Regions from separate parts of the Homo sapiens genome. Here region 2 is linked to region 1. The links come from fine-mapping of genetic effects on gene expression. A gene starts in region 1. The other region holds a variant in brackets. All regions are shown on one strand. Distances are from middle to middle. Region 1 holds the start of CIAO3 (cytosolic iron-sulfur assembly component 3). Region 2 holds the start of WFIKKN1 (WAP, follistatin/kazal, immunoglobulin, kunitz and netrin domain containing 1).

Region 1 (14,514 bases):
GGAGGGCAGCCTCTTCTCCAGAAAAGGCCATTTGTGCCAACATTTCCAACCCGTCCCGCAAAACCTGCTTGCGTCTCCACCCCCCATGCCCCCGCCTTGTCATTTGTGTCCATATCACCTCACGTTTCAACTGCACTTGAACTTGACTCTCCCACCACCCGCACCATGAGCACACCTGGGCAGGCAGAGGCCAGCAGGGGCAGCGCCTGTCTGCAGTCGGCCTGTCCTCGGAATCGCCGCACAAACTCTCGCTGGCTCTCCAGGAGGCTGAAGTGCCTTGAGAAGGCGGTGTCGAAGACGAAGTGCACCCCTGGAAGGTGAAGGTGGGTGCCTGGTTAACCCCATGCGGGACGCCCACACGAGCACACGCCGGCGTGTGGACCACCATGGTGCTGCCAGGGCACGTGTGTCGCACCTGCTTGCCGTGCCAAAGCCCCGGCCCCACCGTGGGGACCTCCTAAAGCCACGTTGCGCCAAAGCCCCAGCCCCACTGTGGGGACCTCCTAAAGCCACGTTGCCTCGGCATCCCCTGTGAACCCAGGCCTTGGTTTCCCACCCCAGAGGCAGCCACCCAGCAGCTCAGTCCTCCACCCTCCCAGCTCTTCAGCGTGGCTGGTCCAGGGAATTGCCACGTGCGCTGCTCCCGGTGACCCTCCCTAGGGCACAGCTGGACGCAGCCTGCTGGACTGGCCCCTCGGACCCTGACTGTGCAGACCTACCATAGTGGCCACCCCTCACACACAGCAGGACTCCTGGAACACGCCAGCCAGCTCCAAGCCCAGCCATTAGAACTGCTCAGTAAACCTGCCTGATCGTGCCCTGGACCCAGCAGAGGCACCCGCGTGTGGGTCCCTCTCTCTCTGCCTGACTTGTCATTCCTCCCTCGCGTAACCCGTGGTCGGAGGACTCGCTGTGCCCCACTTGCCCGTCATCATCATCTCTAAGTAAAAATCTTTGAACTTGCTTCCTATTCTGGTGGGGACGAAATCCACACCTTCCATCTGGAGAACCATGGGCTGCCCCAGGCCAGGTTTTCCCTGGGACACCAGGTCAGGCTCCCAGTGCCAGAGCACTGCTCAGGCACCAACTGGATATGGGTCAGACAGGAGCCATGGGGCACCTGCCAGTGTCACCAGGTTTCCAGTGTGAGGGACCTGGGACACAGCTGGATGACAGGCAGTCTGCTGGTTACAAGGCGCACAGGCCTGCCTCACTGGGAATGAAGGGACTGGACATGGTGGTTACCTGTGAAAGGCACACAGTAACCATGAGGTCCAGCCCCTTCATTCCCAGTGAGACACCAGGCACTGGAGCCTAGTTAGCTGGGGGCTCTCAAGACACCCAGATCCTCCCCAAGCCCAGCTCCAGGCACATAACCAAAGTCAGCAGAAGCTGACCTTGGCTGAACCCAACAGAGCCCCGGAGAGAGTGCCTTAATATTATCAGCTAAAAAGTACAAGGAGTTGGTCAGCCCCAGCTTAGAGAAAGTGCACAGTCAGAATGCAGACGTGTTCTGTGAGAAGGCCCTGCTCTCAAATGTCAAATCAAAACTTCAGGCTGAGGTCACAGAGGGAATAAAGTTTCTGTAGCGCTGAAGTTCAGGGCTGGGTAGCGTGTCAGTGACTCAGAGGCGCGAGGGGCCTGGGCTTACTCAGACGCCCCCTTGATTTGGAGCGGCAGTGTTACCCCAGGTTCAAAGCCTACCTATTTTTTTAAAGAATGAGGTTAATTTCCTGGCAGTATCTGTAGGATTCAGCTGAAACCGTGCAGCCAGCGATGCTCTAGACTGTGGTGAGACCGAAACTACAACCAGCCTCTGCTGACTGGGTGCCGCCATCTGCAAAGCAAGGGGAAGACGCTGCTTACTCTGCTGGCCTTATGCTGATTCCTGGTGGCCAGAGCCGCACGGTGAGATGCTGTCAGCTGTGGAGAGGGCAGGCCAGCTCCATCAAGAGTCTTTTTTTTTTTTTTAACACAGAGTCTCACTCTGTTGCCCAGGCTGGAGTGCAGTGGTGCGATCGGAGCTCACTGCATGCAACCTCCGCCTCCCAGGTTCAGCCTCCTGGGTAGATGGGATTACAGGCGTGAACCACCGTGCCTGGCCAAGGGTATCGTTTTTTTTTGATGGAGTCTCACTCTATCACCAGGCTGGTGTGTAATGGCGCAATCTCGGCTCACTGCAACCTCTGTCTCCTGGGTTCAAGCGATTCTCCTGCCTCAGCCTCTCTAGTAGCTTGGATTACAGGCATGTGCCACCACACCTGGCTAATTCTTGTATTTTTAGTAGAGACGGGGTTTCACCATGTTGGCCACGGTGGTCTCGAACTCCTGACCTCAGGTGATCCACCCGGCTCAGCCTCCCAAAGTGCTGGTATGACAGGCGTGAGCCCCCGCGCCCAGTAGGGGTGTCATTTTGATGTATATTTAGAACCTGAAGTTTGGGGCCTGACACGTTCACCACTGGAGCCCACTGACAAATCACCAAGATTCCAAGCCTCAAAAAGGCAGGCGCCACCCGCACGACGGACGTCGGCACCACACGAGCTGCCCTTGGCAAAACGCGTTGTCGGCTGCTGGGATGGATTTCAGGTTAAAGCAGAGTCACCAGGCCGACCACTGCTTACCTTGTTAGCATCTAGAACCTTCTTCAGCTCCTCGTGGCTCTGCTGGGTGATAAGCACGGTCTCTGCGGAGGTGATGCAGCCGCTGCACGCCAGGCAGTCGTTTAGCGAGACCTTGGCCTTCTCCAGCCTCCGGGTCCCGCCGTCCTACAAGGGAGAAGAACCCGGTGCACAGGGGCCCCCTCTGCACGAGGACATGGAGACAGAGGATAGTGGAGTCCAGCTCATAACCGACAACCAACATGGCTGCTGGCTGGGCTTGTGTGCCGCTGAATTTTTAAAAATTAGGTATGTATTACAAAAATGCACACGCACGCTCTACAGTTTCATAATGCCGTCAAGTCTGCTTCTTGGTACCACTTGGTTAGTGCATCCGAATCACAGGACTAAGGCTTGCCACTGGTATCTCAGCAAAGCAGCAGCCACCCCACTCACCCATGGGGCCCTGGACGGGGTGCTGGCCCCGGTGCACACTCACAGGGCTGTAGGGCAGGAAAATGCCGAAGGTGGGCTCTGAAAGGAGGAGGCGGGAAAGCTGAGGACAAAGGAGGAAAGGACGAAGGCACAGGAAGAGGAGAGCAGAGGGAGGAAGCCTGGGAGCCTGGCCTCCGGTGGGCGGGGCAGAAACAACCGTCAGACTCGCCAAACAGATGCAGGAACAAGGTGTTCCAGTCGGGGGCCTCCGGGACATGCCTCAGCAACTTTTCTTACATGCAAAACGCACCCAGCTCGAGCTCCCCCAACTTCTCCTGCAAAGGCAGGAATGGTTTGAGCAGGGCCAGGGGTGCTGCAGTGGCCCGGAATACAGCCAGAGGAGTAAGGCGACTGGGTGGGAACTGTGTGGGAACCCCTCGCAGCCCAGCTCTCTGCTAGGCCTGTGTATCACAATCTGAGCTCGCCTTGTATTCCTACGTTGGTTCTGCCCCAAGGCACAAAGCCTTGCCTGCCACAGGGTGCTGGGCAGAGGCTGACAGGCTCCTCCAAACCAACTGCCACTGCACCGACAGCCACGCCTACCAGCACCCCAGCACCTTCCAGGGGTTCCCTTCGTTTGTGGGCTGGGCCCCCAGTGCTGGGCTGGAAATCGTCTCTTGGTGCAGTGGTTCATGAGATCAGGCAGACGTTTTTTAGAGTCCAAATGGCAGACAGGTGAATTTTAATAGTTTCTTTTTTTTTTTTTTTTTGAGATGGAGTCTCGCTCTGTCACCCAGGCTAGAGTGCAGTGGTGCGATCTCGGCTCACTGCAAACTCCGCCTCCCAGGCTCACGCCATTCTCCTGCCTCAGCTTCCCGGTAGCTGGGACTACAGGCGCCGGCCACCACGCCCAGCTAATTTTTTTTTTTGTATTTTTAGTAGAGACGGGGTTTCACCGTGTTAGCCAGGATGGTCTCGATCTCCTGACCTCGTGATCCACCCGCCTCGGCCTCCCAAAGTGCTGGGATTACAGGCCTGAGCCACCGCGCCAGGCCCAGTTTCTTTATTTTTTTGAGATGGAGTCTCTGTCTCTCAGGCTGGAGTGCAGTGGAGCAATCTTGGTTCACTGCAGTCCCTATCTCCCAGGTTCAAGTGATTCTCCTGCCTCACCCTCTTGAGTAGCTGGGATTACAGGCATGCGCCACGACACCCAACTAATTTTTGTATTTTTAGTACAGATGGGGGTTGGCCAGGCTGGTCTCGAACTCCTGACCTCAGGTGATCCGCCCCCCCTACCCTGGCCTCCCAAAGTGCTGGGATTACAAGCGTGAGCCACCGCGCCCAGCCTGAATTTTAACAGTTTCATCAGGATCTTATCACTTAGAGAGGAAGTACTATTCTTTAAGAATGAGGGGTCTGGGCTGGGCGCGGTGGCTCACGCCTGTAATCCCAGCACTTTGGGAGGCCAAGGCGGGTGGATCACGAGGTCAGGAGATTGAGACCATCCTGGCTAACACGGTGAAACCCCGTCTCTACTAAAAATACAAAAAACATTAGCTGGGCGTGGTGGTGGCCGCCTGTAGTCCCAGCTACTCGGGAGGCTGAGGCAGGAGAATGGTGTGAACCTGGGAGGCAGAGCTTGCAGTGAGCCGAGATCATGCCACTGCACTCCAGCCTGGGCCATCGAGGGAGACTCTGTATCAAACAAACAAACAAACAAACAAACAAAAGAACGAGGGGTCTGAATTAGAAAATCTTACATGGTTAGAACTAGGGGGAACAGGCAGACGCAGACAGGATCCACCATCTCTGCAAATAGCCCCTCTGCTGAGCAGATCAAGCTGTTTGGCCTGGGTGCTGCTCATTCACCTGCCCCAGGCACCCTGACCCCCAGCCTCCCAGATGGCAGGTGAATTCGACCAGTGGGAAAAGACTGGTGAGACCTGGAGTGTCTCGGGGTCACCGCTCTGTGACGGGAGGAAGCAGAGAAAAGTGTTTCGGATCAGCCGGGCAGGAGAGATGGTGGAGCAGCCTCCTGTGCCTTACTTGGTTAATTTGGAAGTAGCTCCCGTCATCTTCAATGCGAATCTTGGCCACGCCACTTCCCGCCCTTTTTTCCACTTTGACAGGCTTGATGCACTCCTAGAGCAGGAAGAGACCCCAAATCAGCCCCTGTGAGTGGGCGGAGGTTCCCTGGGAGGCCAGGCCTCAAGGATGGCTGCCCAGCCGCACAGCCTGAAGGCTCTGCCAGGAGCCATGCACTCAGGGACTGAGGCTGGTCCCACCGTCTTCTTCCTGCCCCACTGCTCTCACCCAGGGATCGGGTTCCCAACATCCTGCGGCACTGAAGTTCCCAGTGTGCAGGAAGGCCAGTGCTAACAGCGCCTGCAAACTACCCACCTGCGGAGACACCACCAACACTGACCTTCACCCTTCACGTGAACAGGGGGCGTGACCACCACAGAGACCAGAGTTGCACTGCCCATCGAGAGGACGTGTGCTTGGATCTGTTTGGAGACCACCTCCTGCTCAGTGCCCGGGAAACAAGTGGATTTCTCTCTCTTCTCCTTGAGAACCCTGGCAGCCCAGAAAGCCGCCTCCCAGCTCATCCCTGCCGGAAGCGCTCCCAGCAGCCCGCCTCTCGCCCTGCTCAGCTCTGGCCCCGCGGGGCTGTTGGACATGGACAGGCAGGTGCACCCAGAAAAGGGCGCCTGCAGCCTCCCGGGTTCAAGGGTAGCTGTCCGGCCCACCAGGGCGACGTTAAGGACAGCTCTACTGAGGAGCCACTGCGGGGCGTCTAGCGGGCCGCCCCTACTGCCCTCAAATGAGGTGGGGTCCCCACCGCACCCGTTTATGCAGATGCAAAGGCTGTGGCTTGGGGGTCCTGAGGCCTGACAAGGCGTCCTGCGCAGGGGAAGGGGAAGAGGCCCCGGCCCGGGCCCCGCCGCCCTCCAGCTGCGACCCAGGGGTCGGGTTAGGGTTAGGGATGTGTGGGAGCCGCCTCTGCTGCCTCCTCTGGGTTGGGCAGGCCGGCGCGAGCCCGCGACCACGGGACCCTCCCACGCAGCCCGCCCGGACACCATGGGGCACAGGAGCGGGTTGGGGGGCGCCGCCCTCCCTGGCCTCAGTTTCCTTGTTGGTAAGAAGCGGGCCTCAGTGTCTGAGGCCCCGCGCCCGGGTCGATAGAGTCCCTGACGGCCCAGACCGGGCTCCCGGGATTCGGATCTCATTCCTCAGGGGAGGAAGTGGGGCGCAGAGCAATTTCCCTCCGCGCGACAGGGCACCGAGCGCAGCCTCGACCCCGCCCGCCCAGGCCGGCCCACCTGAGACGGCCCGATGAAGTCATCCAGGTCCGTCAGCTGCAGCGCCCCGCTGAAGGGCGACGCCATGACGGCCGCACTGCCGCCGCGCGCAGGTGTCGCTAAACGGCGCGAAACGAAGTGGCTGGTTCCGCCACGCTGCCGGAAAGCGCCCCCAGGACGCATGCGCACCTCGTCCCGGGGCCGGCGCCCTCTGCTGACGAGCCCCGGCGCTGCGGCTCCCCGCCCACCTCGCGGGAACCCGGGACCTACCGCTTCGTCCACCTCCCGCGCGCCCCAGGCCCCGGGTTGGGGTGCAGGGGGCGCAGGGGTTGGTCGGGCCAGCGCCGCAGCTCCGGCCCCGGAGTCTCTCCGCCTTCACAAGGAAGCGGAGGGGATCTGGCTCCGTCCATTTCCTCATCCTCTGCGTACCTGCGGACCAGGTGCTCCCGGATGCAACCCAAGAACCCGGAACGCGCCTGGCACACAGGAGGCGCTCAGCTCGTGTTGGGGAATTCAGGCAGGGAAGAAAGCATGGATAGGCACGAGGTCTCCCCTTCCTGGGGAGCCGCTCCCAGGGCCTCCAGCCCCTTTTTCTGTTATCTTGGAGACCAGTCTGGAAAAGTCCATGCCCCTGGGAGACCCTGAAACAGGACCCTGTGGGCCGACTCGCTTTTCGTTTTTTTCTTTTTTTGAGACAGAGTCTCGCTCTGTCGTCCAGGCTGGAGTGCAATGGCGCGATCTCGGCTCACTGCAAGCTCTACCTCCTGGGTTCAAGCGATTCTCCTGCCTCAGCCTCCCGAGTAGCTGGGACTACAGGCGCCCACCACCACGCCCGGCTAATTTTTTGTATTTTTAGTAGAGACGGGGTTTCACCGTGTTAGCCAGGATGGTCTCGAACTCCTGACCTCGTGATCTGCCCGCCTCAGCTTCCCAAAGTGCTGGGATTACAGGCGTGAGCCACCGCGCCCGACCCCGACTCACTTTTTTTTTTTTCTTTTTTGAGACAGAGTCTCACTCTGTTGCCCAGGCTGGAGTGCAGTGGCGCGATCTCGGCTCACTGCAACCTCTGCCGCCTGGGTTCAAGCAATTCTCCTGCCTCAGCTTCCCGAGTAGCTGGGATTACAGTCACCTGCCATTGCATCCGGCTAATGTTTGTAGTTTTAATTAGAGACTGGGTTTCACCATGTTGGCCAGGCTGGTCTTGAACTCCTTACCTAGTGATCCACCCACCTCAGCCTCCCAAAGCGCTGGGATTACGGGCATGAGCCACCGCGCCTGGCCAGTTACATGTATATCTGGCATCATATGGCCAGTTACATGTCTAATGGCCAGTTTTATGGGGACTTTTCAGGAAACTCCTGGATCGAGGCTGGCATCTTTCCGGCCCAAGCAGGCTCAGCCCATGGAGATCTCACAGTGGCAACATCCTAGGTCCCAGCCTGCGCCGCACCCTCCCCAGGGTTCTAGGCCCTGATTCTGACCACATGTCCCCACCTGGATGCGGCCTGGGCACTCCTGCACCTGCCTGTGGGGTTTGGGCCACCAGCCTGTGTGGCCTTCTCCATCACCTGCAGCTGCTCCTCTCGGCCAGACAGGACTTTCTTCTGCTGCTGCACGGAGGAGCTTTCCCCAGCACCTGGGCCAGGTGAGCTTCCAGGTCCCAGCCATCCCGCCACCTGGCAATACCTGGCCGAGCTTGGAGATTAGGGGCTGAAATATCTTCTATTAAAAATAGAACAGGGGGTCGGGTGCGGTGGCTCACCAGCGCTTTGGGAGGCCCAGGTGGGTGGATCACCCGAGGTCAGGAGTTTGTGACCAGCCCAGCCAACATGGTGAAACCCCGTCTACTAAAAATACAAAAATTAGGCTGGGCGCGGTGGCTCACGCCTGTAATCCCAGCACATTGTGGGGCTGAGGCAGGTGGATCATTTGAGGTCAGGAGTTCAAGACCACCCTGGCCAACATGGTGAAACCCCATCTCTACTAAAAATATAAAAATTAGCCCAGCATGGTGGTTTGTGCCTGGAATCCCAGGTACTAAGGAGGGTGAGGCAGGAGAATCGCTTGAGCCTGGGAGGTGGAGGTTGTGGTGAGCTGAGATAGCACCATTGCACTCTAGCCTGAGCAACAGACTAAGACACTGTCTCAAAAAAAAAAAACTTATCAGGCGTGGTGGCACGTGCCTGTAGTCCTAGCTACTCGGGAGTTTGAGACAGGAGAATCACTTGAACCCAGGAGGCAGAGGTTGCAGTGAGCTGAGATCGCACCATTGTACTCCAGCCTGGGCGACTGAGCGAGACTCCATCTAAAAGAAGAAAGAAAAACAAAACACGAGGCCGGGTGCGATGGCTCACGCCTGTAATCCCAGCACTTCGGGAGGCCGAGGCCGGCAGATCATGAGGTCAGGAGATCAAGACCATCCTGGCTAACACAGTGAAACCCTGTCTCTACTAAAAATATAAAAAAAAAAAAATTATCCGGGTGTAGTGGCGGGCGCCTGTAGTCCCAGCTACTGGGGAGGCTGAGGCAGGAGAATGGTGTGAACCCGGGAGGCGGAGCTTGCAGTGAGCCGAGACGGCACCACTGCACTCCAGCCTGGGCGACAGGGCGAGACCCCGTCTCAAAAAAAAAAAAAAAGAAAAAAAATACGAAAGAAACTTAGTGCCACTGAAATGCAGTGGAGTGGGTTTACAGAAAATGTGAGAGTGAGGAGGGCTGTTGGGATAAGGGAAGGGTCTTTAGGTGAGCTTCCTCTTGCTGCTCCGGGTGGAGCTGGGGCGGGGTTCTTCATTAACTCACAGACATTTCCCTGGAGCCCCTGAGCTCTAGTGCCAACCTCGTGCCTCTGGGGTCCCTGCTTTCTGTTTTGCAGATTGTTTAATCATCGTCATTAGCGAGTATTTACCATGCACTTCCCACGTGCTAGTCCCTGAGCCAGGGCCAGGGAACCCAGGGAGGGCACGGGGGGACACGAGGGCCGGCTGGGGACATAGGGCGAGGCCGGCCGGACCCCAGGTTGCTGTGATGCTGTGACTGTGTATGGGCACCCCCTTTCCCTGGGCTGGAAGGGATGCCTGGTGGAGGCGTCTGCTCTGCGGGCACCCACAGGACCCCCCTTTGCCTACAGCCGCCCCCGGTGGTTGGGTGGGAGGTTGCATGCTAGCATCCTCTTGCTGGTCCGGGGTCATGATACTGGTAGAGCCACCTGGTCCCCTCTCCTGGGTTGGTGTCAGAGCTTCACCCTCGGAAGGGATCATCCTGTGCCTGTCTCCTGAGGCTCCCGTAACAAATGACAACACGCCGGGGTGAAAGCAACAGAGATGCGTCCCCTACTAGCTGTGGAGGCCACACATCTGAGGTCATGGTGTCATTCACCGTGCTCCCTCTGGAGGCTGCAGGGAGGACCCTTCCTGCTTTCTCCAGCTTCCAGGGGCTCCAGTTGTCCTTGGTCTGTGACTGTGTCGCTCCAGCACATTTTTTTTTTCTTGATACAGTGTCTTGCTCTCTTCCCAGGCTGGAGTGCAGTGGTGTGATCACAGCTCACTATAGCCTCAGCCTCCCGGGCTCAAGAGATCCTCCGGCCTCAGCCTCCCAAGTAGCTGGGACTACAGGTGTGCGCCACCATGCCTGGCTATTTTTACTGTTATTATTATTATTATTATTCTTTTGAGATGGAGTCTCACTCTGTTGCCCAGGCTGGAGTGCAGTGGCACCATCTCAGCTCACTGCAAGCCCCACCTCCTGGGTTCACGCCATTCTCCTCTCTCAGCTTCCCGAGTAGCTGGTACTACAGGCGCCCACCACCACACGTGGCTAATTTTTTTGTATTTTTACTAGAGACGGGGTTTCACCATGTGTTAGCCAAGATGGGCACAATCTTCTGACCTCGTGATCTGCCGGCCTCGGCCTCCCAAAGTGCTGGGATTATAGGCATGAGTATTATTATTATTTTTTGAGACAGAGTCTCACTCTGTCACCCAGGCTGGAATGCAGTGGCACAAGCTTGGCTCACTGCAACCTCTGCCTTCCGGGTTCAAGCAATTCTGCCTCAGCCTCCCAAGTAGTTGGGATTACAGGCTCCTGCCACCACGCCTGGCTAATTTTTGTATTTTCAGTAGAAATGGGGTTTCACCATGTTAGCCAGGATGGTCTTGATCTCCTGACCTCATGATTTGCCCACCTCAGCCTTCCAAAGTGCGGGGATTACAGGCGTGAGCCACTGCACCCGGCCTTTATTATTATTTTTTTTTGAGACGGAGTTTCGCTCTTGTTGCCCAGACTGGAGTACAGTGGCAGGATCTTGGCTCACTGCAGCCTCTGCCTGCAGGATTCAAGCGATTCTCCTGCCTCAGCCTCCTGAGCAGCTGGTACTACAGGAGTCCATCACCAGGCCTAGCTAATTTTTATATTTTTATTAAAGACGGGGCTGGGCGCGTTGGCTCACACCTGTAATCCCAGCACTTTGGGAGGCCGAGGCCGGCGGATCACAAGGTCAGGAGATCGAGACCATCCTGGCTAACGCGGTGAAACCCCGTCTCTACTGAAAATAGAAAAAATTAGCTGGGCGTGGTGGCGGGTGCCTGTAGTCCCAGCTACTCAGGAGGCTGAGGCAGGAGAATGGCGTGAACCTGGGAGGTGGAGCTTGCAATGAGCTGAGATCGCACCACTGCACTGCAGCCTGGGCAACAGAGTGAGACTCTGTCTCAAAAAAAAAAAAAGACAGGGTTTCACCATGTTGGCCAGGCTGGTCTCGAACTCCTGGGCTCAAGTGATCCTTCCACCTCGGCCCCCCAGTGCTGGGATTACAGCGTGAGCCACTGGGCCTGGCCTGGTTGTATCTTTTGGGAGGCTGCCCTTCAGCCACCACAGCCCTCATTTCAGGTTCTTGTGGGACCCTCGACAAAGAGATGCTTTCCACCTCCTAACCGGGTATGTGGCTCAGGGAGGCTGTGTGGGGGCTGGGCTGGCCCGCAAGGGGCGGGCGGGGTGGAGGTGGGGCCTGTGAGTCCGGTGGACGGGATGCAGCCCAGGTTGGCTGAGGGCCGGCAGGTGGTGCTGCGGAGCCCACGGGGGCCGGCAGGTGCCACAACCCCGTAAAGGGGGAATAAACCCCCCTCAGGTCAGGAGTTCCTGGGGAGGAGAGCTGAGTTTTCCAAAATTAACTAATTTTTCCTGAACGTCTGATTTCAAAACGTTTACTGAGCTTTCCTGTGTTCCATCAAGGCCTCTGCTTCCAGGAACTGGGAAAGGAGAGGTGGGGTCACTGCGGGTCTGTCTGGCTGGGTGGCAGGAGGGGAGAGGTGGGGTCACTGCGGGTCTGCAGGGCTGCAGGAGGGGAGAGGTGGGTTCACTGCGGGTCTGCCTGGCTGGGCAGCAGGAGAGGAGGTGGGTTCACTGCGGGTCTGCCTGGCTGGGCAGCAGGAGAGGAGGTGGGTTCACTGCAGGTCTGTCTGGCTGGGCAGCAGGAGGGGAGAGGTGGGGTCACTGCGGGTCTGCAGGGCTGCAGGAGGGGAGAGGTGGGGTCACTGCAGGTCTGTCTGGCTGGGCAGCAGGAGAGGAGGTGGGTTCACTGCAGGTCTGTCTGGGCGGGCTGCAGGAGAGGAGGTGGGGTCACTGCGGGTCTGTCTGGGCGGGCTGCAGGAGAGGAGGTGGGTTCACTGCAGGTCTGTCTGGCTGGGCAGCAGGAGAGGAGGTGGGTTCACTGCAGGTCTGTCTGGCTGGGCAGCAGGAGGGGAGAGGTGGGGTCACTGCGGGTCTGTCTGGCTGGGCAGCAGGAGGGGAGGTGGGTTCACTGCGGGTCTGCCTGGCTGGGCAGCAGGAGAGGAGGTGGGTTCATTGCGGGTCTGTCTGGCCGGGCTGCAGGACGTGCACTCAGACTCAGCCCGTGTGGTTTCCAAGGCCCGAAGGACACACCAGGCCAGATGCCCCCATCACACACAGGGCTAGGGAGCAGCAACTGGGGTCCACGGTGGTTCCGCCCCACCCCACCCCGCAGGGCCACCCTCCGAGAGCAGTGCTATTGTTGGTTCTCGCCATAGAACCTGGGTTTAGGTTTGGGGGCCCAGGGGCTGCCTGGTGGGGGGGTGGGGTGATATGGTTTGGTTCTGTGTCCTCACACAAATCTCATCTCGAACTGTAATCCCTGTGTCGAGGGAGGGAGGTGATTGGATCATGGAGGAGGGTTTCCACATGCTGTTCTCGTGATGGTGAGTTCTCACGGGGGCTGCTGGTTTATAAGTGGCAGCTCCCCCTCCACTCTCTCGCCTCCTGCCACGTGAGACGTGCCTGCGTCCTTCACCTTCCGCCATGATCGTAAGTTTCCTGAGGCCTCCCCAGCCCTGTGGAACTGGGAGTTAATTAAACCTCTTTCTTTTATTTTTATATTTTTTATTTTTGAGGCAGAGTCTCACTCTTGTTGCCCAGGCTGGAGTGCAGTGGCGCAATCTCAGCTCACTGCAACCTCTGCCTCCTGAGTTCAAGCGATTCTCCTGCCTCAACCTCCGAGTAGCTGGGACTACAGGTGCCCACCACCACACCCGGCTAATTTTTGTATGTTTAGTTGAGACAAGGTTTCACCATGTTGGCCAGGCTAGTCTTGAACTTCTGACATCAGGTGATCCGCCCGCCTCGGCCTCCCAAAGTGCTGGGATTACAGGTGTGAGCCACTGCGTCCGGCCAGACCTCTTTGTTTATAAATTACCCAGTCTCAGGCAGTGTCTTTATAGCAGTGTGGGAATGAACTCACATAAGTGGGGAAGGTGAATCCTCCAACTCCCCCACCTGTGTGGCCACTGATGTGCAGGACACCAGGATGAGCTTCCCAGAGGGCCAGAGCCAGGCAACAGAGTGCAGGGTAGGCCAGCATGGCCTTGGGGCGGCGTGGTACCCAACAGGAATGTGGAGATGAGGCCCGAGGTGGCGGCTCACACTGGTAATGGCAACACTTCGGGAGACTAAGGTGGGAGGATCGCTTGAGCCCAGGAGTTTGAGAGCAGCCTGGGCAACATATTGAGACCTCGTTCCTACAAAATAATGAGTCGGTGCAGTGATGCATGCCTGTGGTCCTAGCTACTCAGGAGGCTGAGGTAGGAGAATTGCCTGGACCCGGGAGGTCGAGGCTGTAGTGAGCCGTTATTGCACCACTGCACTCCGGCCTGGGCAACAGAGCAAGACCCCATCTCAAATAACAGTACAAAATAAGTATGGAGATGCTGGCTCCTGTGGGAAGCTGGGTGGACGTGGGGGGCACACCCTCCAGTCTGCAGAAACTTCCCGCCGCTCGGGCTGATGTGCTCGAGGGCTCCCGAGGCCCTGCCTCCCGGGTGGCAGAGGGAACATGGGAAAGGCTGCCGGGCCCCGGGCTCGCCGGTGGGTGGCCCCGTGCAGCCTGTTATTCATAAAACTTGGAGAGAAAGTGCCTTTTTGTAGGAAAGTGTGGGGTGCTGGCGGCCATTTCCACCTGTGGTTGGACCCAGACTGCCTCCCCGCGTGTGGCCCATGCCCCACCCCACACGCACCCCCGCCCTCTGTCAAGCAGGACTCGGGCTCTCCGTTGGCCGAGCAGACGTTTTATTTGTGGAACGGAATTGCTGTCGGGATGGGCGTGGGGTCGTTAGCAGCATAATCAACACCCACATCCACCCTGGGGGCAGCCACGTCTTGTCAACAGGTGGAGGCCGTGACATGCTGCAATTAGCAGCTAATGAGGAGGCCTGTGTGACCCACGCCTCCGTCACAGGTGCGCAGTGAGCTGTGGAAACGCCGACAATTTAAAATAGTCGAACAGGGCCGGGCGTGGTGTCTCAGGCCTGTAGTCCCAGCACTTTGGGAGGCCAAGGTGGGAGGATCACCTGAGGTCAAGTGTTCGAGACCAGCCTGGCAACATGGCGAAACCCTGTCTTGACTAAAATACAAAAAAATTAGCCGGGCGTGATGGTGCACGCCTGTAATCCCAGCTACTCGGGAGGCCGAGGCAGGAGAATCGCTTGAACCCGGGAGGCGGAGGTTGCAGTGAGCCGAGATTGCGCCACTGCACTCCAGCCTAGGCAACAGAGCGGGACTCCATCTCAAAACATAAAAATAAAGTAGTGGAAAAAAACTATAGGAAAAAGAAAAGAAAAAGCTAAAAAGAAAATTTAACATGTGAAAAAGCGTACTGGCCGGGTACAGTGGCTCAG
Region 2 (13,380 bases), 110 kb before region 1:
ACTGACTGTCAGGGCGGCTCCTAGAGGGGCCTAGAGCAGGGCGAGCGCGCGTCCTGACTCATCCCCTAGAGCACTCGCTCGTTCTTTTGTTTTGTTTTTTGAGACACGGTCTGGCTCTGTCGCCAGGCTGGAGTGCCGTGGCGCGATCTCGGCTCACTGCAACCTCCGCCTCCCGGGTTCACGCCATTCTCCTGCCTCAGGCTCCCGAGTAGCTAGAACTAGGTGTGCACCACCGCGTCCAGCTAATTTTTGTATTTTTAGTAGAGACGGGGTTTCACCATGTTGGCCAGGATGGTCTCCATCTCTTGACCTCGTGATCCGCCTGCCTCGGCCTCCCAAAGTGCTGGGATCGCAGGCGTGAGCCACGGCGCCTGGCCGAAGTCGCTAGTTTTTTAAAAATCAGATCAGTTTTAGAAAACAGAAGGCAGTGGAAGAGTCTGTTTGTCCCGTGCTCTGCCCCTTGAGACACGCAGCTGAGGGTGCTTAGGGTGCCGTTCGTTAGGCGGCTGCTGGTCACCGAGAGTCTCCTTTTGGTTTCTCACTCCGTGGTCATTTGGGTCCCTGCGGCCTCACTGTGACCCACGCCGGAGCAAGCCTCCGGGTCCTCCTGTGCCATCGCCCCTGCCCGTAACCCCTACTCCTCAGACATGGCCATCCCAGGAAGTGGGGGCCCGCTCAGGGCAGCAGCCGGGAGGTGTGGCCAGGGCCCCCCGCGTCACAGCACACTTGGAGCCTGAGGCAGCCCATCAGCCGGGAGGCGGGCCTTCTGCTCTCTTTCTAGAGTTTTCAGTGTCATGCGAATAGGGGTGTTTGCCACAGAAAACAGGTCAGCATCAAAAGTTACCCCTCTCCAGCCTTTTAGCATTTGTTTTATGTCCATATAAACTTCTTCAGTGTAATGTGTTGTGTGTTCATACTTTTATTTTTTAAAAATCATGCTGGGCCGGGCGCGGTGGCTCACGCCTGTCATCCCAGCACTTTGGGAGGCCGAGGTGGGCAGATCGGGAGGTCAGGAGATCAAGACCATCCTGGCTAACACGGTGAAACCCTGTCTCTACTAAAAAAAAATACAAAAAAATTAGCCGGGCATGGTGGCGGGCGCCTGTAGTCCCAGCTACTCAGGAGACTGAGGCAGGAGAATGGCGTGAACCCGGAAGCGGAGATCGTGCGGCTGCACTCCAGCCTGGGCGACAGAGTGAGACTCCGTCTCAAAAAAAAAAAAAAAAGAAATCATGCTGGGCTGGGCACAGTGGCTCACACCTCTGATCCCAGCACTTTAGGAAGTTGAGGCAGGAGGATCACTTGAGGCCAGGGGTTCAAGACCAGCCTGGGCAACATAGCAAGATCCCATCTCTAAAAAATGTTTAAAAAAACTTAGCCAGATGTGGTGGTTCACACCTGTATTCCCAGCCACTCAGGAAGCTGAGGCTCAGAATATCAGGCTGCAGTGAGCCATGATCGTGCCACTGCATGAACCCCAGCCTGGCTGACAGAGTGAGACCCTGTTTCAAAAAAAAAGAAAATGCCATCCGCAGTGCTGGGACCTGCGTTCTTACCTCACCTGGGTTGCACATCTCTCCTTGGCCAGCATGCACGCTTTTACATGCACTGCTGCTGTCTTCAGCATCTGCACGGTACATTTCACTGCCGCTTACTCAGCTGTCCCCTGAGGCTGGACATTTAATTTGTGTCTGGCTTGTCGTTGTTATCAGCGCCACTGTGACACACATCCTCAGTTACTTCTGAGTTGTGGGCTTGCCATGCGGGAGGTTGCCATGCGGGAGGTTGCCACTAGGGAGAGTGGGCTGTGTTGTACGCTTTGGTGGCCCACTCCCCAGTCTCTCCACCTCCCCCAGCAGCAAATGAGCCAGCCCCAGTCCCTGTGCCCCAACCTCCAGGGTTAACCCCTGGGTGTGCATTTGTTTATTCTGAATCTTATCATTTATCGCCCACCAGACTGACTTGGCCATCTCTGGCCTCGAAGGGTCTCCCTCAGCGAGAGGTGTCCTTCCTGAGCTGTCGCTCCATCCTGAGCAAGGCCTTCGCCCTGGGAGCTTAGTAATGTCAACCTTGTTCTAAACAGGACCTGGGGCTACACTTCAGTCTTCCAGATATCGAAAGATGGTTCTAAGAGGCTCTAAAAACCCTAATTTTCAGATGGACAGTGCCCTCTTCTTTCAGCCTCAGCCTCTTGTGTGATAGGCTCTTCCATTACGTGAAGGTTTTGTCAGCCTAGGAGTAGGGTGGATCACAGCTCATTGGCTGGATCTGGTTGCAGAATTGTAGGGTGGGAGTGGACGTTGGGGAGAGGCGGGCATAGGGGAATGGGCCTGTGATGTCACCGTTTCGCCCGACAGGGCTCTGAGTGTGAGCAGTGTGCTCCCCTGTGCTGCTGGAGAGCCATGACTGTCACTGCCGAGATATTTAGGGCAGGTGGAAACAGCCCAGAGCTGAGCTCCAAGTAATTGGTCTCTAAGGGATGTGGCAAAAAGTCCCCGTGGCAAAACCTGCTCTGCCTGGCTGGGGGAGCTTCACAGAAACTGTCCTGGAGGGACTGGCATTCTGCTCTGCAAGTTTTAGGTTGGAAAACTCAGAAATGCCCCCACTCAGCTCTGTCCCAGGTACTCCCGGGGGGATTCACTGATGGACTGGCCGAGAGGACACTTAGCTTCCACAGCTGCACGTCCCCCGGCTGCCAGAACCCCGCATCTGCCTGCCCAGGAAACTTCCACAGGCTGATGGCTCCAGGGGAGGGAGGGGAAGCGGCATTTCTGACACCATGGAAGGCGCCCACCCCCCTGCTGCAGTCCTGCCAGGTGAGGGCAGGGGTGAGGGGCAGGGCTGCACCAGCTCTGCCTGGAGGGCATGGCTCATCTGCCCATCCGCCAAGTAATAAGCATCCTTGGCCCTGCCCGGGAACTGAGGCCCCTGCACCTGAGCGTCCCTGGGCCTGGGCTGGCCATGCGTGTCAGTGACCCCTGATGACCCCCAAGTCTCTGTTGCAGGGGATCCTCTTGGTGTATGACATCACCAACCGCTGGTCCTTTGACGGCATCGACCGCTGGATCAAGGAGATCGATGAGGTAGGCCTGGGTCCGGGGAGCCCTCCCGGGGAAGGCAGGCTGGATGGAGGTACCTGGGCCCCGGGTAGGCTCTGGATTCCCGCCTGCCGCCCCTCCTGTGGCCCCGGCTCTGCACCCTGCACTGTCCCACGGCCTACGCCTGGGCATGCTGGTCACTGTGCACACGACAGTCGGGCGTGGAGCCCAGCAAGACCAGGAGCTACGGGGCCACCCGGAAGGGCTGCACTGTAGGGCCTGAGCCCTGGGGTCTGCCCACCTTGACCTCCGCCCACCTTGACCTCCCACGGCCCTCACCCCATCATAGTCCAGACAATGAGGGCGGGCCCTGCTGCGGCTGAGGGGTGGGTGGCACCCTGCGTTTGTGCGTCTGCTGAGTTCTGTGCCCCCAGCATGCACCCGGAGTCCCCCGGATCTTGGTTGGAAACCGGCTGCACCTGGCCTTCAAGCGGCAGGTCCCGACGGAGCAGGCCCGCGCGTACGCAGAGAAGAACTGCATGACCTTCTTTGAGGTCAGCCCCCTGTGCAACTTCAACGTCATCGAGTCCTTCACGGAGCTATCCCGCATCGTGCTCATGCGGCACGGCATGGAGAAGATCTGGAGGCCCAACCGAGGTGGGTGGGCGGGCGCCGGCCAGCCCTGAGGTCCCCGAACCTGGGCTGCCCTGATCACATGGAGGCTGAGGGGGGCCAGGGGCCAGTGAGGGAGGTTCAGGCAGGTCCCTTGGCAACGCGCAGTAGGGGCTCGGCCGGCGGCAGGTCAGTGACTTGGTAAGAGCAGCCTCGGGGGAGAGGCGGCAGCACTGGGGGGCACAGGAGCAGCTGATGACCCCCCCTCAGGGTGCCGCCGTGGCCGCTGCACTCTGCCATGCCTGTGGGTCCCTGGCATTGCTGGTGTGGGCAGTGTGTGCTCGCTCCTTCCTGGTTCCGGGGCTGGTCCTGCTGTCAGGGGAGCACAGGAGCCGTGCCTGCAGCTTTGTGTTGTGTCATCTGCTCTTCCTGGGTAGCCACATCCTTGATCAGAGGCTCCCGTGAAGCCCCCCTCAGGGAGGTGGTACTGTTGATTTTGTGGTGCCTCCCAGCAGGGTTCACTGCTGAACAGAGAGAGGGTGGCTGACGGTGTCACTGTCCTTCTTAAGAGGAAGCACGGGCCTGGCACGGTGGCTCACTCCTGTAATCCCAGCACTTTGGGAGGCCACAGCAGGTGGATCACCTGAGGTCAGGACTTCGAGACCAGCCTGGCCAACACGGTGAAACCCCGTCTCTACTAAAAATACAAAAATTAACCGGGCGTGGTGACGCACACCTGTAGTCCCAGCTATTCGGGAGGCTGAGGCAGGAGAATCGCTTGAACCCAGGAGGCGGAGGTTGCAGTGAGCGGAGATCGTGCCACGGCACTCCAGCCTGGCGACAGAGCGAGACCCGTCTCAAAAAACAAAACAAAAGAATGAGCGAGTGCTCTAGGGAATGAGTCAGGACGCGCGCTCCCCCGCTCTAGGGGATGAGTCAGGACGCTTGAAGGGCCAGATCACGCAGCCCTCACACTGGGAGCTGCATCATCCAGGCCAGGAACTGGGCAGAGTGCCCTCTGGAAGCCCCGCAGCAGCACCGCCCAGCGTGCCTGGCTTTAGGGAGCAAGGCAGGGGATGGGGTGCCAGTGGACACATCTGTGCTGGGCAGAGAAGTTTGGGCGTCCAGGTCCTCCAGGAGCCCAGCCTGGGAACACCTCTAGGAGTGTGGAGACCCCGCCAGGCTTCTCTTGGGCACCTCAGGTCTCCCTGCACAGGGCCTCCTCCCCCACAGCCCCATGGTCTGACACCCCCTCTGCCCCACAGTGTTCAGCCTGCAGGACCTCTGCTGCCGGGCCATCGTCTCCTGCACCCCCGTGCACCTCATCGACAAGCTTCCACTGCCCGTCACCATCAAGAGCCACCTCAAGTCCTTCTCGATGGCCAACGGCATGAACGCGGTCATGATGCACGGCCGTTCCTACTCCCTGGCCAGCGGGGCCGGGGGCGGCGGCAGCAAGGGCAACAGCCTCAAGAGGTCCAAGTCCATCCGTCCACCCCAGAGCCCCCCCCAGAACTGCTCGCGGAGTAACTGCAAGATCTCCTAGCGGGGATGGGCGGGGCCGCCTGTGCAGATGCCAGGAGGGCTCGAGCTGGACACTCCTGGCTGGACGCCAGGCCAGTGCCGCCTACGTGGAGACTGTCCACACAGCTGCCTCAGAAGCGCCGGGCTTTCCTCACACCTGAGCCGGGTGCGAGGAGGAGCATGCACGGACCAAGCGCGGCAGGCGGGAGGAGGGGGCGCGGCTGGGCTGCTGGTGCTTCCGGGAATCTTGGTCGGAAACAAGCCGGGCCTCCCCAGCTGCCTGGGCTTGACCGGCGGGGAGCCTGGTTGGCCTTTCTTATTTATATAGAGAACACTTCACTTTTTTGTACATTTTTAAGGGGCCTTCAGGGAAGCCTGGGTGTGGCCCGGTGGTGGTGCACTGGTGACTTCATGGCCACGCCAGCTGCGGGGACGCACTTGGGACTCCTCGAGAGGGGACTCGCGGCCGCGATGGCAAGGCATCCTGTGAATTCATGCGCTGCGAGTGGCGGGGCTGCCCAGAGGCCGGGGGAGCAGACAGGGCCGGTGCTCCCTCTGGAAGCTTGGGTGACCGGGGCCCTGGCTCCCACGGGATGGAGGGTGTGGTCCTGTGGTCAGAGCCCAAGCAGCACTCAGGAGAGGGGAGAAAGGAGGTGCACCTGGCAGCCCACATTTTTGTTGCTCCCCAAATCCCTCCCCACGTGGGGATGAGAACCTTCCTGCTGTGATGTGACACCTTCGGGGACATTGACCACTCAAAACTCAGATCATCTCGCCCACCCTGGAGAGTGCAGAGCTATCTGTAGACTTAGGAATACTTGATGGGCAGCGGTGCAGACCCCGGGCACCTGCGTGCAGCCTCCTGTTCTCGGCAGCTTCTGTCGCTGGCCCTGGGGTCCCCACAGCTGCAGCTCTCCTGTGAGGTTGCACGGCATCAGAACCATCCTGACCTTCTTAGGGACGTGCCTGGAACCACCTCGTCCACGTCCACGTCCACCTGGGGGCCTCGGGAGGCTAGGCCCCTCCTCAAAGGCCCACCAGCCCGGCGCTCATGCTGAGCCCCAGGCACGCAGGGCCGGCCACCTCTCTCCTGAAGCCATTGGCCGCTCCTCCACCCAGTGCTTCTGCCCATGCCTGCCCCAGCAGCCCCTCTGCACGGTCACCATCGCCTGGGCCTGCCCACAGCACTGGTGCTCACCTCTACCTCCTGTCCTCAGGCCGTGCGGCACGACATGGCCAGCACGCAGAAGGAGCCCTCCCGGGACCCAGGACCCCCCGTGGTGGACTCCGCGGCACATGCTTCCCAAGGTGGTCCCACGGAGGGTGTTACTGGGCACCAGTGGACTCGCCCCATGGCCCGTTCCTGGGAGATGAGGGCCGTGGCCTGCATGAACTACCAGATGAGTAAGGGAACCCCAGGCAGGCGGCCCTGCCACAGCCCCCAAAGACACTGGCCTCCTGCTCCAGCTTCCCTGTCCTGGCCCCACCTGTCCTGTTGCTGCCAGCAGGGCCCTTGTTTGGGATTATGAACAAACCTCACAGACTTTGAGGACCTGGATGGTCCTGCATTCACGGCATCAACACTACCCGCGCTGCTGTTAGACACTCCGCCATTCCTGGTTCTCTCCGAACCGTTCTTTGTACAGTAAATGTAATTCAGCTGTGGTCCCCACGTTTTGCTGTGTCTGGTGGGGTGGGTCTGGCAGTGGCGGTGCCCCGTGCCAGGGGCCAGTGCTGCTTCATACCCGGCAAACTGACCTCTGGCCTTTGTTTTGCCTGCTGTTCCCTGCGCTGACCGGGCTGACCTGCCGCGGTTGGCTGGGTTCGCCTCAAAGTGAGGGCTGGAGCTGGGCTGGAGCAGCTGGGCCTGGTCACGGCCATTCTCCTCTTCCCGGTGGATGGAATCCCAGCTGGGCTGTGCTGAGCCCTCGCTCACAGTCCCCGGCAGCAGATGGCCTGGGGCGGACTGTCCCCAACAGCAGCAGGACTCCAGAGGGCCAGGTCCTCCAGTCAGTCGGCCCGCTCAGCAGAGCCGCCTGCACGCTGGCCAATCTGGTGTCTGCTATGCCCGGCCCAGGGGGGTGTGGACGCCCCGGAGGTCACAGCTGAGCTGGAACGGGGCACTCCAGTTGGTACAGGGACCAGACCACAGCCTCTGGCTCAGGTGCCTCCCTGTGCTGTTTCGTGGGCATGTCCGGGCCTTAAGCCCCTCCCTGGCAGCTCCAGCCCAGCCGCCTGCTGCTGGGTCTGGCCTAGCTACCCCCACCCCCACGCTATCAGGGCCCACCCCCAGTCTCCTTGTAGAGCAGGGACTGGCGCCTGGAGCCGTCTCCGGGTCTCATTCTGACCAGACCAGGCTCCTGTTACCCTGCCTCCTGGGTCAGAGGTCAGACACAGGGTCAGGGGGACACTCCCATCCGGTCTCAAGAGAACCACTCCCTGAGGCCCCAGACATCTGGAGCCACAGAGGGTTTGGAAGGGTAGATTCCAGGCAGCCTTTTGTCCTGCTGCACCAGGCAGGCCAGCCCCCTGCCCTCCCCAACGAAGA[G/A]GAGCCAGCCTGGGGATGTGTGCCCCGCCGACGGGGGGCTGGGGCAGGGCAAGGCTCTGGTGCCCTGGGACACTTGCTCTTTTCAGCTGCAGACGCCCTTGCACTTGGCCTTCCCTCGGGCGGTGCCATCCCACGCGGAGCCACGTCCAGGGCTACACGGTGCGTGGGCCGAGGCTCCGGCATCAGCGTTTCGGGCTGTTCTTATGCTTGTGGTGGCCACAGGCCTCTTCCTGCTGCACCTGCCCCGCCTTGGGGACAGGCCTGAGCCCCAAGCCCGCTGCCTGGTTTCAGGGATGGGGTCTCTGGGAATGCAGTCCTGCCGGGTTGGGCCCCACTCCAACAGGGGCAGCAGAGCAGAGGAGGCCGGGCTGTGCTGGGCGTCCTGCAGACCCCTGTGCCCCTGAAACAGCCATGGAGGGGGGAAGGAACCTCGGAGCGGAGTGAAGCCCTCGGCCGCACGTGACCGTTGCCAGCCTGGACCTGGCCCGGGGGACCCAGGCTGTGGTCAGCCACGCTCTGCGGGGAGGGCCCGTGCCTGCCACCCCCATGGCATAGGAGCCTGGGGTCCAGAGGGCGCCAGGGACAAAAGCTGGGATCTGCTGGCCCTGCCCCCACCCTACTGAGGGTCGTCAAGGAGATTGATCTCAGCCCAGGGGTGGACGAAGGGGTTCAGGTTACAGGGTCCCCTCCCCTCCCCCTCTCCAGCCAGAGCCAGCCCTTCCCCGCCCCGGTGACCCTCATGGCCAGTGGCTCTGTGCTCATGGGCCTCTGGCCCCTCCCCAACCTCCTCCCCTCTGCCCTGTGCTGACCAGGGCCTGGGAGCCCCCGCACGGTTCAGACAGAGGGGCCAGGCTGAAGCTGGAGAGGAACCAGCGTCACACAGACGGCCTCTGAGAACTTGGAGACCCCGTTACCCACCCAGCAGGGGTGTCAGGACAAGCATCTGCTGCAGGCTTCAGCCTCAGGGGCAAAAGGGAGCCCCGGGGTCCTGGTGGGGGCACCGACCACAGGCCCGGAGGGTGGATGCCTGCAGGAAGCTGGGCTCTGTGGAGCCCGAGGAGGGGCTGGTGGCCACACCCCCCGGCCCCCTGGCTCGGCGGCCCTCATGCCCGCCCTACGTCCACTCCTGCCGCTCCTGCTCCTCCTCCGGCTGACCTCGGGGGCTGGCTTGCTGCCAGGGCTGGGGAGCCACCCGGGCGTGTGCCCCAACCAGCTCAGCCCCAACCTGTGGGTGGACGCCCAGAGCACCTGTGAGCGCGAGTGTAGCAGGGACCAGGTGAGTGTGGTCGGGCCGGGGTCCTGGGGCTCAGAGCAGCCAGCCTGGGCAAGACCCTGCTGGAGGTGCCACCTTCTGCCTGGGCTCCCCAGACTTCTGGGGGGTCTGGGTCTGGGCCCCTTAAGGGGCCCAGAGACACCCCCATCGTTGCCCTCATTTGTCTTAAGAATAAGAGCCCTCCCCACTCCAGCTTTCATGCTCCCCATGTGCCTCCACCCTGGGGCACCATCATCCTCGGCGACCACCCCCACCCCGTCACTGCCTCTCCTCCCACCCTCTCCTCCCACCCTCTCCTCCCATCCACTTCTCCCACCCCTTCACTGCCTCTCCTTCCATCCTCTCCTCCCACCCTCTCCTCCCATCCACTCCTCCCATCCACTTCTTCCATCCTCTTCTCCCACCCCGTCACTGCCTCTCCTTCCATCCTCTCCTATCCACTCCTCCCATCCACTTCTTCCATCCTCTTCTCCCACCCCATCACTGCCTCTCCTTCCATCCTCTCCTATCCACTCCTCCCATCCACTTTTTCCATCCTCTTCTCTCACCCCGTCATTGCCTCTCCTTCCATCCTCTCCTCCCATCCACTTCTCCCACCCCTTCACTGCCTCTCCTCCCACCCTCTCCTCCCATCCACTCCTCCCATCCACTCCTCCCATCCACTTCTTCCATCCTCTTCTCCCACCCCGTCACTGCCTCTCCTTCCATCCTCTCCTCCCACCCTCTCCTTCCATCCTCTCCTCCCACCCTCTCCTTCCATCCACTGTCCTCCCTGTCCTCCCACCCTCCTTCCATCCGGGACCAGTGCAGATGGTGGTGGGGGTGCTGCAGCCGATGTCCAGCCTTTGTCCTGGCCCGCACCACCTGCTGGGTGGTCCTGAGCACTGTACGCCCTCCTTGGGCCTCAGTTTCCTCGTCTGTACAACGTAAAGAATAACGGAACTTGCTTGTGGGTGTGAGGATTCTGGAAGGTAAGCCAGGTGGCACCTCTGGCGAGGTGGCTCCTCACACAGGATGGAAAGGACACTGAGTCCCCGGGGAGGCAGCCACAGAGCGGGGGGCTCCCTGCTACCCCACCTGGGCCTCCCCTTGCAGGGGCCAGGCCAGAGCCCCGGGGCGGGGGGCATTGGGGCTCCCACCTAAGTGTCCCCCATCCCCAGGACTGTGCGGCTGCTGAGAAGTGCTGCATCAACGTGTGTGGACTGCACAGCTGCGTGGCAGCACGCTTCCCCGGCAGCCCAGCTGCGCCGACGACAGCGGCCTCCTGCGAGGGCTTTGTGTGCCCACAGCAGGGCTCGGACTGCGACATCTGGGACGGGCAGCCCGTGTGCCGCTGCCGCGACCGCTGTGAGAAGGAGCCCAGCTTCACCTGCGCCTCGGACGGCCTCACCTACTACAACCGCTGCTATATGGACGCCGAGGCCTGCCTGCGGGGCCTGCACCTCCACATCGTGCCCTGCAAGCACGTGCTCAGCTGGCCGCCCAGCAGCCCGGGGCCGCCGGAGACCACTGCCCGCCCCACACCTGGGGCCGCGCCCGTGCCTCCTGCCCTGTACAGCAGCCCCTCCCCACAGGCGGTGCAGGTTGGGGGTACGGCCAGCCTCCACTGCGACGTCAGCGGCCGCCCGCCGCCTGCTGTGACCTGGGAGAAGCAGAGTCACCAGCGAGAGAACCTGATCATGCGCCCTGATCAGATGTATGGCAACGTGGTGGTCACCAGCATCGGGCAGCTGGTGCTCTACAACGCGCGGCCCGAAGACGCCGGCCTGTACACCTGCACCGCGCGCAACGCTGCTGGGCTGCTGCGGGCTGACTTCCCACTCTCTGTGGTCCAGCGAGAGCCGGCCAGGGACGCAGCCCCCAGCATCCCAGCCCCGGCCGAGTGCCTGCCGGATGTGCAGGCCTGCACGGGCCCCACTTCCCCACACCTTGTCCTCTGGCACTACGACCCGCAGCGGGGCGGCTGCATGACCTTCCCGGCCCGTGGCTGTGATGGGGCGGCCCGCGGCTTTGAGACCTACGAGGCATGCCAGCAGGCCTGTGCCCGCGGCCCCGGCGACGCCTGCGTGCTGCCTGCCGTGCAGGGCCCCTGCCGGGGCTGGGAGCCGCGCTGGGCCTACAGCCCGCTGCTGCAGCAGTGCCATCCCTTCGTGTACGGTGGCTGCGAGGGCAACGGCAACAACTTCCACAGCCGCGAGAGCTGCGAGGATGCCTGCCCCGTGCCGCGCACACCGCCCTGCCGCGCCTGCCGCCTCCGGAGCAAGCTGGCGCTGAGCCTGTGCCGCAGCGACTTCGCCATCGTGGGGCGGCTCACGGAGGTGCTGGAGGAGCCCGAGGCCGCCGGCGGCATCGCCCGCGTGGCGCTCGAGGACGTGCTCAAGGATGACAAGATGGGCCTCAAGTTCTTGGGCACCAAGTACCTGGAGGTGACGCTGAGTGGCATGGACTGGGCCTGCCCCTGCCCCAACATGACGGCGGGCGACGGGCCGCTGGTCATCATGGGTGAGGTGCGCGATGGCGTGGCCGTGCTGGACGCCGGCAGCTACGTCCGCGCCGCCAGCGAGAAGCGCGTCAAGAAGATCTTGGAGCTGCTGGAGAAGCAGGCCTGCGAGCTGCTCAACCGCTTCCAGGACTAGCCCCCGCAGGGGCCTGCGCCACCCCGTCCTGGTGAATAAACGCACTCCCTGTGCCTCAGACCTCCTGGCTTGCTGCTGCTGGTCGGGCGACCCTCATCCTTCCAGGTGCCCCATGCCCAGCCAGTTTCCGCTGGGGCCTTGACACCCACTGGGGCTTGGGCTTTGGTACAAGGTCACCAGGGAGTGCCTGTCCGCCCCTGCATCCCCAACCAGCTCCATCCTGCCTCAGCAGCTGTCTCGGCCCCAATCCCACTGCCCGAGCTCCAGCAGCAAGGATCAGGACGTCCCAAGCCCTTGACCCCACAGGAGACCCCGTCTCCCACCCAACCTCACAAGGTGCTCCTAGGAGGAGGTGGGGCAGACACCAGCAAGCCGGCAGCAGGACATGCTTTATTCTGAGCAGGCTGGGCCCTTCGGCCAGCGGCTGAGAGCACAGACTGGGTGGGGCTGTCGTCCACAAGGTCCGGCCTAGGGAGGCAGGGTTCGTGCCTCACAGAGCCTCCGGCAGGGATGCAGGTGTGCGGGGGTGAAGGAGGGGCTTAGTTTTTCCGGAAGATCAGGCATTTGTTGTTGGCTGGCATGTCCACCTGGAGAAACACTTTGCTGGAGGACGGCCCTCAACCCCTAGAGAGGTTGCCTGGGCCCCCGCTCCCCCACCTACCATCCTCTCCAGGAGCAGGCCACTGGCCTTTCCCAGGTCCTCCAGGAGGGCTGTGTCCCGAAGCCCCCATTCTGGGTTCCTGCAGAGGGTGGGGAGATGGAGTCATGGCCTGGGGGGTGCCACCCAAGCCACCTGCCACCTGAGCCAGACCCCCCGCCTCTAGCTCTGACCTGCATCTGAGCATCAGGTCAAAGTCCACGTTGCTCTGGGGGGAGATCTTCCCATTGATGGCATAGGGCTGTGGGCATGGGGACACAGCCCACTGGACCAAGGTCGGGGTATTTCCCAGAGAGCCTGGGACAGACTTGCAGGCTGGGGTTTGGAGAATGAAAGGGCACCCCCTCCCTGTCCCCAAGAGGGAGTCAGCCAAGGCCAGCCTGGTGGGCAAGGGGGTAGGGAGGCTGGCAGATGACCCAGGGAGGGGTACAGACTGGAAGTGGAGGGGAGGCCGTGCTGGTGGCTGGGCGGGGGGCAGGGAGCCCAGGAGGGAGGACTCTCAGCAGGGCAGGAGACAGCAGCTAGGACTGGGAGCGGGAGGCCCGCCGTGGACAGGCCCACTCACCCCGTAGGTGATGAGCAGGGCCCTGGGTTTGAGCAGGTGTCCTGCTGCTCTGAAGAGCCCCTGGTGAGTAGGAACAGGACGGCAGTGAGGTGCTGCCCCCAACAGAAGCCAGGCCCTGAGGCTGGAGACCCTCACCCCGACTGTGATGGGGGAGGCTGGAGACCCTCACCCCGACTGTGATGGGGGAGGCTGGAGACCCTCACCCCGACTGTGATGGGGGAGGCTGGAGACCCTCACCCCGACTGTGATGGGGGCAAATCTGGCATCCCAGCTGCCCCCATGCAGGGTGAGTGGTGCCACGGCAGACACCCATGCTGGGCTCCCCACAGACCTCCGTGCAGCGCAGGGGGCTGACATGGGCCATGTTGATGCAGAGCAACAGGTCCAGCGACTGTGGCAGGATCCCGCCCCAGTGCTCCCAGCCCCACGTCACGTCCAGGTGTAGCGGGGCCTTCACGTTGGTCAGGCCCTGGGCTTGCGTGGTGGCCGCGATGCTGCAGGAGGCGAACGCTTGGGTGGGGGCCGA

Evidence for each region.
Region 2: its variant is fine-mapped to the expression of CIAO3 in whole blood (TOPMed, PIP above 0.99).

The regions. Positions count from the first base shown.
Region 1 is chr16:734,562-749,075 of GRCh38, forward strand. CIAO3 (cytosolic iron-sulfur assembly component 3) reads right to left here and starts at 6,436. Exons shown (of 11, transcript NM_022493.3): 1 at 6,359-6,436; 2 at 5,082-5,177; 3 at 2,625-2,768; 4 at 1,705-1,837; 5 at 176-310. The coding sequence starts at 6,424. RefSeq lists enhancers at 3,128-3,422, 5,983-6,578 and silencers at 5,762-6,061, 6,432-6,491, 6,562-6,841.
Region 2 is chr16:622,427-635,806 of GRCh38, forward strand. It overlaps RAB40C (RAB40C, member RAS oncogene family), which reads left to right. Exons shown (of 6, transcript NM_021168.5): 4 at 3,006-3,083; 5 at 3,473-3,695; 6 at 4,916-6,842. The coding sequence ends at 5,196. WFIKKN1 (WAP, follistatin/kazal, immunoglobulin, kunitz and netrin domain containing 1) reads left to right here and starts at 8,559. Exons shown (of 2, transcript NM_053284.3): 1 at 8,559-8,998; 2 at 10,156-11,691. The coding sequence starts at 8,828. The coding sequence ends at 11,631. It overlaps METTL26 (methyltransferase like 26), which reads right to left. Exons shown (of 6, transcript NM_032366.5): 2 at 13,186-13,348; 3 at 12,855-12,914; 4 at 12,463-12,530; 5 at 12,293-12,371; 6 at 12,004-12,218. The coding sequence ends at 12,171. RefSeq lists enhancers at 1-28, 4,981-5,714, 7,184-7,917, 7,443-7,737, 7,918-8,652 and 1 more and a silencer at 5,101-5,351. The variant G/A (reference allele first, on the strand shown) is at 7,723.